3 linked regions of the Homo sapiens genome follow. The protein of the gene in region 2 purifies or fractionates together with the protein of the main gene of each other region. This does not show direct contact. Each region holds a gene or a part of one and is shown on either strand. Other genes may lie near its edges. The genes, in order: RBM25, POLQ and TCERG1.

Region 1 (3,651 bases), on a different chromosome or scaffold from region 2:
CTAGCCTGGGTGACACAGTGAGACTCTGTCTCAAAAGAAAACAAACAAACAAACAAACAAAATTAGCCAGGTGTGGTGGTGCGCACCTGTAATCCCAGCTACTCTGGAAGGTGAGGCAGGAGAATTGCTTGAACCTGGGAGGCAGATGTTGCAGTGAGCCGAGGTCGCGCCACTGCACTCCAACCTGAACGACAGAGTAAGACTCCGTCTAAAAAAAAAAAAAAAGTAAAACTCTATATTCTTGGTATTTAAGTTATATTTTATGGTTTTTAAATGTGTAATTCATTCTGCAGAGTTAACCAGATATATTTAATTTTCGTTTATGCCAATATACCCATTCCATTCACTTCAAATTTTTCCATAACATATTCCCCTTTATTTGGAGCTGCCAAAACTTGCTTGTTGATAGGCTGGACTTCAAAGGTGAAGGCAAAAATACCAGTTAACAGCTAATTTTTATGGATATTCCTTTAAGATAACTGGCCTCTCCTGGGCGCGGTGGCTCACATCTGTAATCCCAGCACTTTGGGAGGCTGAGGCGGGCGGATCACAAGGTCAGGAGTTCGAGGCCAGACTGGCCAACATGGTGAAAGCCCGTCTCTATTAAAAATACAAAAATTAGCCAGGAATGGTGGTAGGCGCCCGTAGTCCCAGCTACTCGGGAGACTGAGGCAGGAGAATTGCTTAAACCTGGGAGGCAGAGGTTGCAGTGAGCTGGGACCGCGCCACTGCACTCCAACCTGGGTGACAGAGCGAGACTCCATTTCAAAACAAAAATAAAAAAGATTGGTCTCTCATGGAAAATCAGAAAACATTTCTCATCTTTGATAAATACTAATGTCCACTTTAAGCAGCCTAAAAGATTACCAACTACTTATTTCAACACAGGTTTATGTGTTTTGCCATGTGAAACTGATTGAGAATTAACTTTCATAATCATAAGCAAAGCTTATCTGTTACCTATAGATGATAAACAAAATAAATTATAATACATTGAAAGATGGTATGTACTTTGTAGAAAAATAAATTAGGGAAGAGAGCTATGGAGTAGTTTATTTTAAATACAGCGATTAGGCCTCACCAAGAAGGTGAAGATTAGAACAAAGATTTAAAAGAGGCAGAGGCAGGAAGCCCTATTCATATCTGGGGGAAAGAGACTTCCAAGCAAAGGAAAAGACAAATACAAAGAGGCTGAAGCAGGAATGGTGTATTTGAGGGAGGAATAGCAAGGCCAACAGTATGACTGGAGCAGAATAAATGAAGAAAATCAGAAATAAATACTGAGTATTATGAGTAGAGTGTAGGGCTATGTAACACAATGTAAATAAACATTTTAGTTTTAACTCTGAATGAGGTGAAAATCATTTGAAGAGTTTCTGACTTGTCACATTTTAACAGTATCACTGGCCACTGTGTTAAGCCTGGAAGGGAACAGGATACAAGCAAGAGACTGGTACAATAATCCATATAAGAGATGGTAGCCTGGAGAGATGGTGGCCTGGAACAGGTGGTAGTGGTGAAAGTGCTATCAAGTTGTTGGATCCTGGATATATTTTGAAGGCAGCCAATAGGATTTGCTGAGGGATTGTATAATATGTGGGATTTAAAAGAGAGAAATGCAGAGTTATCTTATGGCACTGAAATCATTTCCATAGCATTTTTTAAAATATTGAAAGTACCTCACATTTTAGAAGGTTCAAAGCACCTTTTCCTGCTAAGTATGAAACTCCGGGCCGGGCGCGGTGGCTCAAGCCTGTAATCCCAGCACTTTGGGAGGCCGAGGTGGGTGGATCACGAAGTCAGGAGATCGAGACCATCCTGGCTAACACAGTGAAATCTCGTCTCTACTAAAAATACAAAAATTTAGCCGGGCATAGTGGCAGGCGCCTGTAGTCCCAGCTACTCGGGAGGCTGAGGCAGGAGAATGGCGTGAACCCGGGAGGCGGAGCTTGCAGTGAGCAGAGATTGTGCCACTGCACTCCAGCCTGGGCGACAGAGCCAGACTCCATCTCAAAAAAAAGAAACTCTATAGCCCACGATAATAAAAACAGGAACCTGGGCCAGGTGCAGTGGCTCATACCTGTAATCCCGGCGTTTTGGGAGGCCAAGGCATGCAGATCACTTGAGCTCAGGAGTTCAAGACCAGCCTGGGCGACATGGTGAAACCCCATCTCTACCAAAAATACAAAAAATTAGCCAGGTGTGGTAGCATGCACCTGTGGTCCCAGATACTCAGGAGGCTGAGATGGGAGAATCGCTTGAGCCCGGGAGGTGGAGGTTGCAATGAGCCGAGCTCACACCACTGCACTCAAGCCTGGGCGACAGAGTGAGGCCCCCCAAAAATTAAATAAAATAACAGAAACCTATGATAGAAGGGTTCCCTACCTCTAGTGTAGCGGTGGTCACACAAGTATATGCATTTGTCTAAACTCATTGAAATTAAAACAGATGCATTTTATTGTATGCAAATTTTATCTCAAGAAATCTGGTCCAAAAAGAAACCCTGAAGACATATCTCTAGTACTCAACATATGCATGCACTCAGCTTTTCTTTTTTCACTTTTTTCTCTTTGAATCTTTCAAACTATTTTTTTCTGCACTCTTAAGAATACTGCAAGTATGCAAAATACAGCAAAACACTGCTAATAAGCATTCCTCTATTGTAGACTTATCCAGATAGAAACAAAATTATTTCTCCCAGGATAGATTATTTTAGACTAGCTCCATCAGTACACTACGTGCCAAATTTCTGAAATGATAATGAACTGAGATTCCTCTGAGCAAATATTCACATACAACTCACTCATTCATTCAATATCTACTTCCAATTATGTGTCAGGTCTGCAGGAATTATTCCTAGAAAAAAAAAAGTGTTTTATGCCCAAAGAAGAATGGGAAATGCTTAACAGAAAAACTACTTTTACAGCAAAGCTTTTCAGAAGTATGAAAATACTCAATTGTTTGGAAATCTCCAAAAAAGAGTTGATCTTTTTCTGACATTGCCACTTTTGTTGTTTTACCATTTTCAATGATTAAAGAGCAACACTCCTGTGCCTGCCTATAGTCACAGCTACGCAGGAGGATCACTTGAGCCCTGGAGTTCTGGGCTGCAGCACGCTACTGATCAGGTGTTCATGCTAAGTCCATTCAGCATTAATATGGTGACCTCCTGGGATGAGAGAGAACCACCAGGTTGCCAACAGAGAAGGGCAAAACTCCCAAACTGATCAATAGTGGGATTACGCCTGTGAATAGCCACTGCACTCCAGCCTGAGCAACACAGGAAGAATTCATCTTTTTAAAAACAAAAACAAGGCTGGGCACAGTGGCTCATACCTGTAATCCCAGCACTTTGGGAGGACGAGGCAGGTGGATCCTTTGAGCCTGAGTTCCAGACCCGCCTGGGCAACATGGTGAAACCCCATCTCTACCAAAAATACAAAAAAATAGCCAGGCATGGTGGCGTGCACCTGTGGTCCCAGCTACTTGGGAGGCTGGGGTGGGAGGATTGCTTAAGCCTGAAATGCGGAAGTTGCAGTGAGCCAAGATCGCAGCACTGCCCTCCACCTGGGTGAAAGAGACCCCATCTCAAAAACCAAATAAAACAAAAAAGCAGCGCTATCTACTACTATCTATACAGAAAAATGAGGG
Region 2 (3,751 bases):
AGTTGCCCAAGATCTCACAGCTACTAAGTTTCAAACCTAGACTGACTGACTCCAGAGTTGCACTGTTAACCCTTAAGTTACACTGCATCTGAGAAAGTTCTTTCTTGGCTGCAATCTAGGGGTCTCTCTCTCTTTTTTTTTTTTTTCTTTTTTTGAGACGGAGTCTTTCTTTGTCGCACAGGTTGGAGTGCAGTGGTGCGATCTCGGCTCACTACAACCACCGCCTCCCAGGTTCAAGCAATTCTCCCGCCTCAGCCTCCAGAGTAGCTGGGATTACAGGCACCCGCCATCATACCCGGCTAATTTTTTGTATTTTTGTAGAGACGGGGTTTCACCATGTTGGCCAGGCTGGTCTAGAGCTCCTGACCTCAGGTGATGCACTCATCTCGGCCTCCCAAAGTGCTGGGATTACAGGCGTGAGCCACCACGGCCGGCGAGATCTCTTTTATTTCTTTAATAGTACTCTTCATTTCTGCCCAAGCATATGGCACACTTCATTAACTGACTTGTTTAATGTCTGCCTTATTCTCTAGACTCTTTCTCTTTGAGAGCAGGAACCATTTTATGCCATTTCACTGCCATTTACCCAGTGGCTAGCTTACAGTAGATACTCAGTAAATAGTTGTTGATTGCGTAAAAGGCCAAGAGAAAAATGTTTCATTCACGGAGTAATGTCGCCATCTCGTGGAACTTTAGAATATTGTCATTTAAATCAAAAAAATGTTTTCACGGAAGGAATTGATGGTTCGAATGCTATTTTCCAGATTGTATTCGAGTGTTTTTTTTTTTTTTAATTGGACTGGACCTTTTGAGATTTTTAGTGCTCTAGAACTGCACAGCCTCTTCAGGTCAGGCTTAGGGCCTACTAGTTTTGCTTGGTGAAATGAATTATGCAACTAGGTAATGAATGGTCACCGTTTTACGTTCAGAACTCGTTCGCTTCTACCTTTACAAAAGGGACAACACAGATGCATTACTAAGCTCTTGGCTCATAACGATCCCTGGGGTATATTCAGAGCCCCTTCCTCGCGGCGTTCATATAGTGTCTCAGGGGTCTGTCAGCCAGCAATCCCCAATTCCTCATTACATATTCCTCACAATGCATGCTGGCTAAAATGGAAATTGTGTTCAGAAATAGCCCTGCCCTACCATCATATACTAGGAGAAAGGAGGAAATTATGCTCTATTAGAAACCCTAGGCTATCTTGCATAATGCTTCTCAATCTGAAATAATTTTTTACAGAATACCAATACGTTAAGAAGAGCTACTTCCCTGATCTACCTATTATGGGCAGCCCATTTTATGAAGTTAGCATGGCCTTCCTATTCAAACCAGAAATGGACAAAAGGAGAAGGAAGGCTTTTAGGTCAGTATGGTTATAACTGTAGATTCTGTATTCTTCCTCTTTAATCTATCTCTCATATTAACCAACCAGGAGGTTGGAGGCCGGAAGTCTTAGACGCCAGCGAGAGCCGCTCCTTCCCCACGAGTCTATGGCTTTCGGGTTACTTAAGCCACGGAGAACTCTATGGTTCCGGGGCGGGCCGGGAGGTTTGAGTTTGAAGACTGGCGGGAAGATGTCCGCAGCTGTTGCCAGGCCAGGGTTCTCCCGAGAGGGAGGACGCTGGGACTGTGGCTTGCCCTGATCGGCCGAGAAGAGTTTGCCATGAATCTTCTGCGTCGGAGTGGGAAACGGCGGCGTTCAGAATCAGGCTCAGATTCGTTCTCGGGAAGCGGCGGTGACAGCAGTGCCAGCCCCCAGTTCCTCTCCGGGTCCGTGCTGAGCCCGCCGCCCGGCCTTGGTCGCTGCCTGAAGGCCGCAGCTGCAGGTGCTCCAGGAACCCGGGAGGCCGCGGGCAACGGGGGCAGCTCCGCCGGGCCATGGGTCGGGAGGTGTCCTCACCCCACGGGACTTGCTTCGTTGCATACCCCATTGGGCTTCTACTCCCCTTCTCTGTGACTGGGGCCTGGTGTGGCAGGTCACTTTCTGTTCAGACATACGCGTGTTTTCAGTGATCGCCTGGTATTAATGTTCACGTGGCTTCTGGATCTTTCGACCTTTAGAGAAACAACTTCCTAGTTAGCTTCATCCCATCATCTGTTGGGCGGCTCGTTCCTGGTAGTACCCAGTACTCCTTACAGACCCTTAAGACAGGATTGTTGGGCCTGGAGTACGGCACAGGCTGTTCGGCGTCCAGGGGAAGGCTGGAAGGGATTCGTAATGAGATTGGTTGGGTGTCCCGTGGATGTCGACCCAGTTTTTTAAAATCGTTAGTTGTGCAGTCGTCATGGAACTAAAACTTACTATAAATAGAAACTCACCTAACTTAGCTTTGTAATGCTTGCATATTGCCCTCCTCCCCCAACTACACCCGTAATTCCAACACTCTTTATCTACTGTGTATTGCACGCTTTTTTGTTCGTTTGAGGCTTTTAAGGAATTTTTATTATATGCAGTAAATAACAATTTATTACTTTTCTATACATGGTCAATTTCTCATAAGATTCTTGAAGTCAGGATGTGCTTTAAAGAGCTTCATTTCAACACATAGGAATTCCAACACACGGTGAAGGGCTAACTGTAAAACTCATATATTAGAAGTAAATTAAATTTTAATTTTTTCTTTTTCCTAAAAGGAGAATGCAAGCCTACAGTTCCTGACTACGAAAGAGACAAGCTACTATTGGCAAACTGGGGACTTCCTAAAGCAGTTCTGGAAAAATACCACAGTTTTGGTGTAAAAAAGATGTTTGAATGGCAGGCAGAGTGCCTTTTGCTTGGACAAGTCCTGGAAGGAAAGAATTTAGTTTATTCAGGTATCCAAATTTATGTAAACTAATTACTATTTTTAAGATATGAATGTAAAGAATACTCTATTGAGGTAGTTGTGGTTCGTTTAAAAGGTGAATGAGGCAGTGCTTTATAACTAGAGAAAATCGTACAATATGTGTGAAAAGTGGAGTTTTATTTATATTTAAATTACAAAAGTTTTATTGTTTGACTGGGGTGGAGGGAAGCAAGAAAAATGACAATTTAAAGAGTGGGCAATTCTGCCTGCCATTATTCTCAACAAACATATATCCCAGTGAGTGTGCAATGGGAGATGTAAATCTGCCCTTCCCCTGTTTGATCCTGGTTGCTTTTCAGGGTATGAGCATTATCATTACATGTTTGTTAATTTACCTTTTTTTTTTCTTGAGATAGAGTTTGTCTCCAGGCTGGAGTGCAGTGGCGCTATGTGGGCTTACTGCAACTTCCACCTCCCAGGTTCAAGTGATTCTCCTGCCTCAGCCTCCCAAGTAGCTGGAATTACAGGTGTGCGCCACCAGGCCCAGCTACTTTTTTGTATTTTTAGTAGAGATGGGATTTCACTGTGTTGGCCAGACTGGTCTTGAGCTTCTGACAAGTGATCTGCCTACCTTAGCCTCCCAAAGTGCTGGGATTATAGGTGTGAGTCACCGTGCCCAGCTATAGATTGACCTGTTTGTACAGGGTTGTATATACAAACAACAAGTAATATACTTTATATAAAATTTTTATGGGTTTTCTTTTTTTTTTTTGAGATGGAGTCTTGCTCTGTCGCCCAGACTGGAGTGCAATGGAGTTGTCTCGGCTCACGGCACCCTCTGCCTCCCGGGTTCAAGTGATTCACCTGCCTCAGCCTCCTGAGTACCTAGGATTACAGATGCCCGCTGCCATGCCTAGCTAATTTTTGTATTTTTAGTAGAGACGGGGTTTCACATCTTGGT
Region 3 (3,651 bases), on a different chromosome or scaffold from region 2:
CCGGGTATGATGTTTCCACCAGGAATGCCTCCTGTGACTGCTCCTGGTACTCCAGCACTACCTCCTACGGAGGAGATATGGGTTGAAAATAAAACTCCAGATGGGAAGGTAAATAATAAAATATATTTAAGTTGTCATTTGTTGACAGAGGAGTAAAACTTAAAGAGTTCTGGCAGATTGAGGTCAGTGATACTGTCATTTAAGAATGAGCCCTGGGTGAGCAGGGAATGGGGTAAGACTTCAGGAGAAGCTGACTGGATTTAGTTTTTGTGCAGCAGATATAAGGTTGCCTGGAGTGCTAACACACATTTACCTGTGATTCTGGAAGCTTCTGGTCACATTGGTACCATCTGCCTAGCACATACCAAATTCCAGGCTCCTAGAAGGAAAGCAGGTGTTCAGCGTAGCTGGTTTAGGCACATCGAGCCATTCTTATCAGTAAGGGAATGTCAACCCTCCTGAAATCCAAGTTCTTGGACTCCAGATAAGGGTCAGCAGGGCTTTCTACAGATAGCTGTCTCAGGTCTGTTATGTTGAATTTCTGCATAAAACATAACATGGGTTTTCCTTTGTGCTCATTATAGAAAATTGGGCTGTGGGGTGGAATTACCTATTTTTGTTGTTTTGTTTTTGTTTTTTGAGATGGAAGTTTCACCCTGTCGCCCAGGCTAGAGAGCAGTAGTGCAATGTTGGTTCACTGCAACCTCTGCCTCCTGGATTCAAGCAATTCTCCTGCCTCAGCCTCCTGAGTAGCTGGAGTTACAGGCACCTGCCATCATGCTCGGCTAATTTTTGTATTTTTAATAGAGACAGGGTTTCACCATGTTGGCCAGGCTGGTCTCGAACTCTTGACCTCAGGTAATCCCACCCGCCTTGGCCTCCCATAGTGCTGGGATTACAGGCGTGAGCCACTGTGCCTGGCCCTAAGTTATTTTATTTTATTTTATTTTTTATTTTTTTATTTTTGAGATGGAGTCTCGTGCTGTCACCCAGCCTGGAGTGCAGTGGTGCGATCTTTGGTTCACTGCAACCTCCGCCTCCCGGGTTCAAGTGATTCTCCTTCCTCAGCCTCCCAAGTAGCTGGGATTACAGGCGCCTGCCATCACGTCTAGCTAAATTTTTGTATTTTTAGTAGAGACAGGGTTTTACCATGTTGGCCAGGTTGGTCTCAAACTCCTGACCTCAGGTGATCTGCTCACTTCAGCCTCCCAAAGTGCTGGGATTACAGGTGTGAGCCACCGCGCCCAGCTATTTTTTATTTTTGAGATGGAGTCTCCCTCTGTCACCCAGGCTGGAGTGCAGTGGTATGATCTCGGCGCACTGCAGCCTCCACTTCCTGGGTTCAAGTGATTGTTTTGCCTCAGCCTCCCGAGTAGCTGGGATTACAGATGCCGGCCACCACACCTGGCTAATTTTTTTATATTTTTAGTAGAGATGGGGTTTCACCATTTTGGCCAGGCTGGTTGGTCTTGAACTCCTGACTTTAAGTGATCCACCTGCCTCTGCCTCCCAAAGTGCTGGGATTACAGGAATGAGCCACCACGCCTGGCCCTACGTTATTTTTAAATAGCTTTAAAGATAAAATATGGTTCCATTCTTGTTTTTAATAATAACTGACAGATTTTATGATACCATTGATTTTTGCTTCCGCTGCAGGTTTATTATTATAATGCTCGGACACGTGAATCTGCATGGACCAAGCCAGATGGAGTTAAGGTTATTCAGCAATCAGAACTGACACCTATGCTTGCAGCCCAGGCACAGGTTCAGGCTCAGGCCCAGGCGCAGGCTCAGGCCCAGGCGCAGGCTCAGGCCCAGGCACAAGCTCAGGCCCAGGCTCAGGCTCAGGCCCAGGCCCAGGCCCAGGCCCAGGCCCAGGCCCAAGCCCAAGCCCAGGCCCAGGCTCAGGCTCAGGCACAAGCTCAGGCCCAGGCCCAGGCTCAGGTCCAGGCCCAGGTCCAGGCACAAGTGCAAGCACAAGCAGTTGGAGCTTCCACCCCTACGACCAGTAGCCCAGCACCTGCAGTATCCACTTCAACATCATCATCCACCCCTTCCTCTACCACTTCTACCACAACAACTGCTACTTCAGTTGCGCAGACAGTATCAAGTGAGTACCACTCAGCATGTGTTTTTATATAGGGGCTAGAGACATGAACAAGTAGGGGACTACATTTCATATTGATCCCAGTGTTTCTGGTATTATCCTTTAATACCAGAATTATTTAAAATACATTTTTGACACTAAAACTTTTGGGTTAGAGGAAAACAGGAATTTATATTAACAGGAGAAATTATTTGCCCAGTTGCAGTTTATGAAGCTAAATTGAGAAAGTGCAAAGTTAGCTGTTCCACTTGGCCAACAGTAATGCCGGGCATTGTGGGTTTGCAAAATAAGTGTAAGTCTTGGTCCCTACCTTACAGTTTCCAGTATTCCTAATCGAGGAGGCAAGAATAACACGTGTTAAACAATTAGATATTGGTGTGCAAAACTATACAGTGAGAAAGATGTAAGAATTTGAGAAGTGGATAAATGAGTGGGTGGACTACATGGGTATTTATCATGAAGGAAACGGAGTAGGGTTTAAGCAGGTTCACAGGTAAGGAAAGGATTTTCAGGTAGGAGAAGCAACATGAATAAAGGTCAGGAAAATGATAAATGTAGTTTATGGGTTTTTAGGAAACTTCTGAGGTGAGAGGGTGTTTTTTTTGAAGGGTCTTAAGAACTAGGCAAATAGGTGAGACAGGCACTGGGGGCCTGTATAAATGCAGTATTTTGGAGGATTTTTTTTGGTGTTGGTTTTTTGGGTGGTGATGAAATAAGGGAGGTTTATTAGGAGCTTCTCAGTAATCTCTTTTAGAATAGTTTCTAGACTGGGATGCGAGTAGGTGAATTGAGGAGTTGCCATAGAAGGGAGCAGTCAGAAAGGCAGGAGAATTTTCAGGTGTAAACTCACAGAGGCCCAAAGAGTAGATCTTTTCTGAAAAGGTGAGAGTCGATTAATAGCAGATTTCAGAGATTAAGAGAGGGACACAGCTATTAATTTGCTTAAAAGATTGTTATTAATGTGACAATATTGCTTTCTTTTTGGGGGGTTTCTTTCTTTTTTTCTTTTTTCTTTTTTTTTTTGTATCAATATATGGATGTTGCTCCTTACTCTGCAGGTTGAGACTAAGCCCGAAAGTACTTAAATAATGATTTTTTTATTTGATTATTTGTTATGGCACTTGTCTCAAGATACACAGCTGTCCCTACAGTGTGATTATAATTTGTATTATTTTACTACCAGGATAATTGATAAGAATAAAGAAAAAATGTGGGGTTTTTTTGTGATTACTTCAGGGACTTGGGAATTATTAGTGTGTAAGAAATACGTATAAGAGAGAAATTAATTCACATTGGCTTCAAATTTGAATTTATTTTATTGATAAAAAGCAACTGAAGCAGTCAAGTAAGGTACATATAATATGGGGATAGCCTTTAAAGATCCTCTTAATGGTTTTTAGACATTTTGTAGCGGGGGAATGTACTGAACAGGAAAATATGAATAGTGTTTTACAAATCTGTTTGCTTTTGTAGTGAAGGTGAATTTTGATATGAAAGTATAACAGTCATACTAGCTAGTCTGTTAAGGGTTGTTACCTTTTTAT

The links.
Region 1: the proteins of POLQ (region 2) and RBM25 purify together in Homo sapiens (affinity purification with mass spectrometry; one large-scale study listed by BioGRID and IntAct). This does not show direct contact.
Region 3: the proteins of POLQ (region 2) and TCERG1 purify together in Homo sapiens (affinity purification with mass spectrometry; one large-scale study listed by BioGRID and IntAct). This does not show direct contact.

The regions. Positions count from the first base shown.
Region 1 is NC_000014.9:73,061,529-73,065,179, reverse strand, and holds part of RBM25 (RNA-binding protein 25), read right to left. Parts: intron 209-3,651; exon of another isoform or gene 87-208; intron 1-86. UniProt on the Homo sapiens protein: RNA-binding protein that acts as a regulator of alternative pre-mRNA splicing. Involved in apoptotic cell death through the regulation of the apoptotic factor BCL2L1 isoform expression.
Region 2 is NC_000003.12:121,543,794-121,547,544, reverse strand, and holds the start of POLQ (DNA polymerase theta), read left to right. Parts: upstream 1-1,556; 5' UTR 1,557-1,667; coding exon 1,668-1,830; intron 1,831-2,638; coding exon 2,639-2,818; intron 2,819-3,751. UniProt on the Homo sapiens protein: Low-fidelity DNA polymerase with a helicase activity that promotes microhomology-mediated end-joining (MMEJ), an alternative non-homologous end-joining (NHEJ) machinery required to repair double-strand breaks in DNA during mitosis.
Region 3 is NC_000005.10:146,457,228-146,460,878, forward strand, and holds part of TCERG1 (transcription elongation regulator 1), read left to right. Parts: coding exon 1-108; intron 109-1,656; coding exon 1,657-2,110; intron 2,111-3,651. UniProt on the Homo sapiens protein: Transcription factor that binds RNA polymerase II and inhibits the elongation of transcripts from target promoters. Regulates transcription elongation in a TATA box-dependent manner.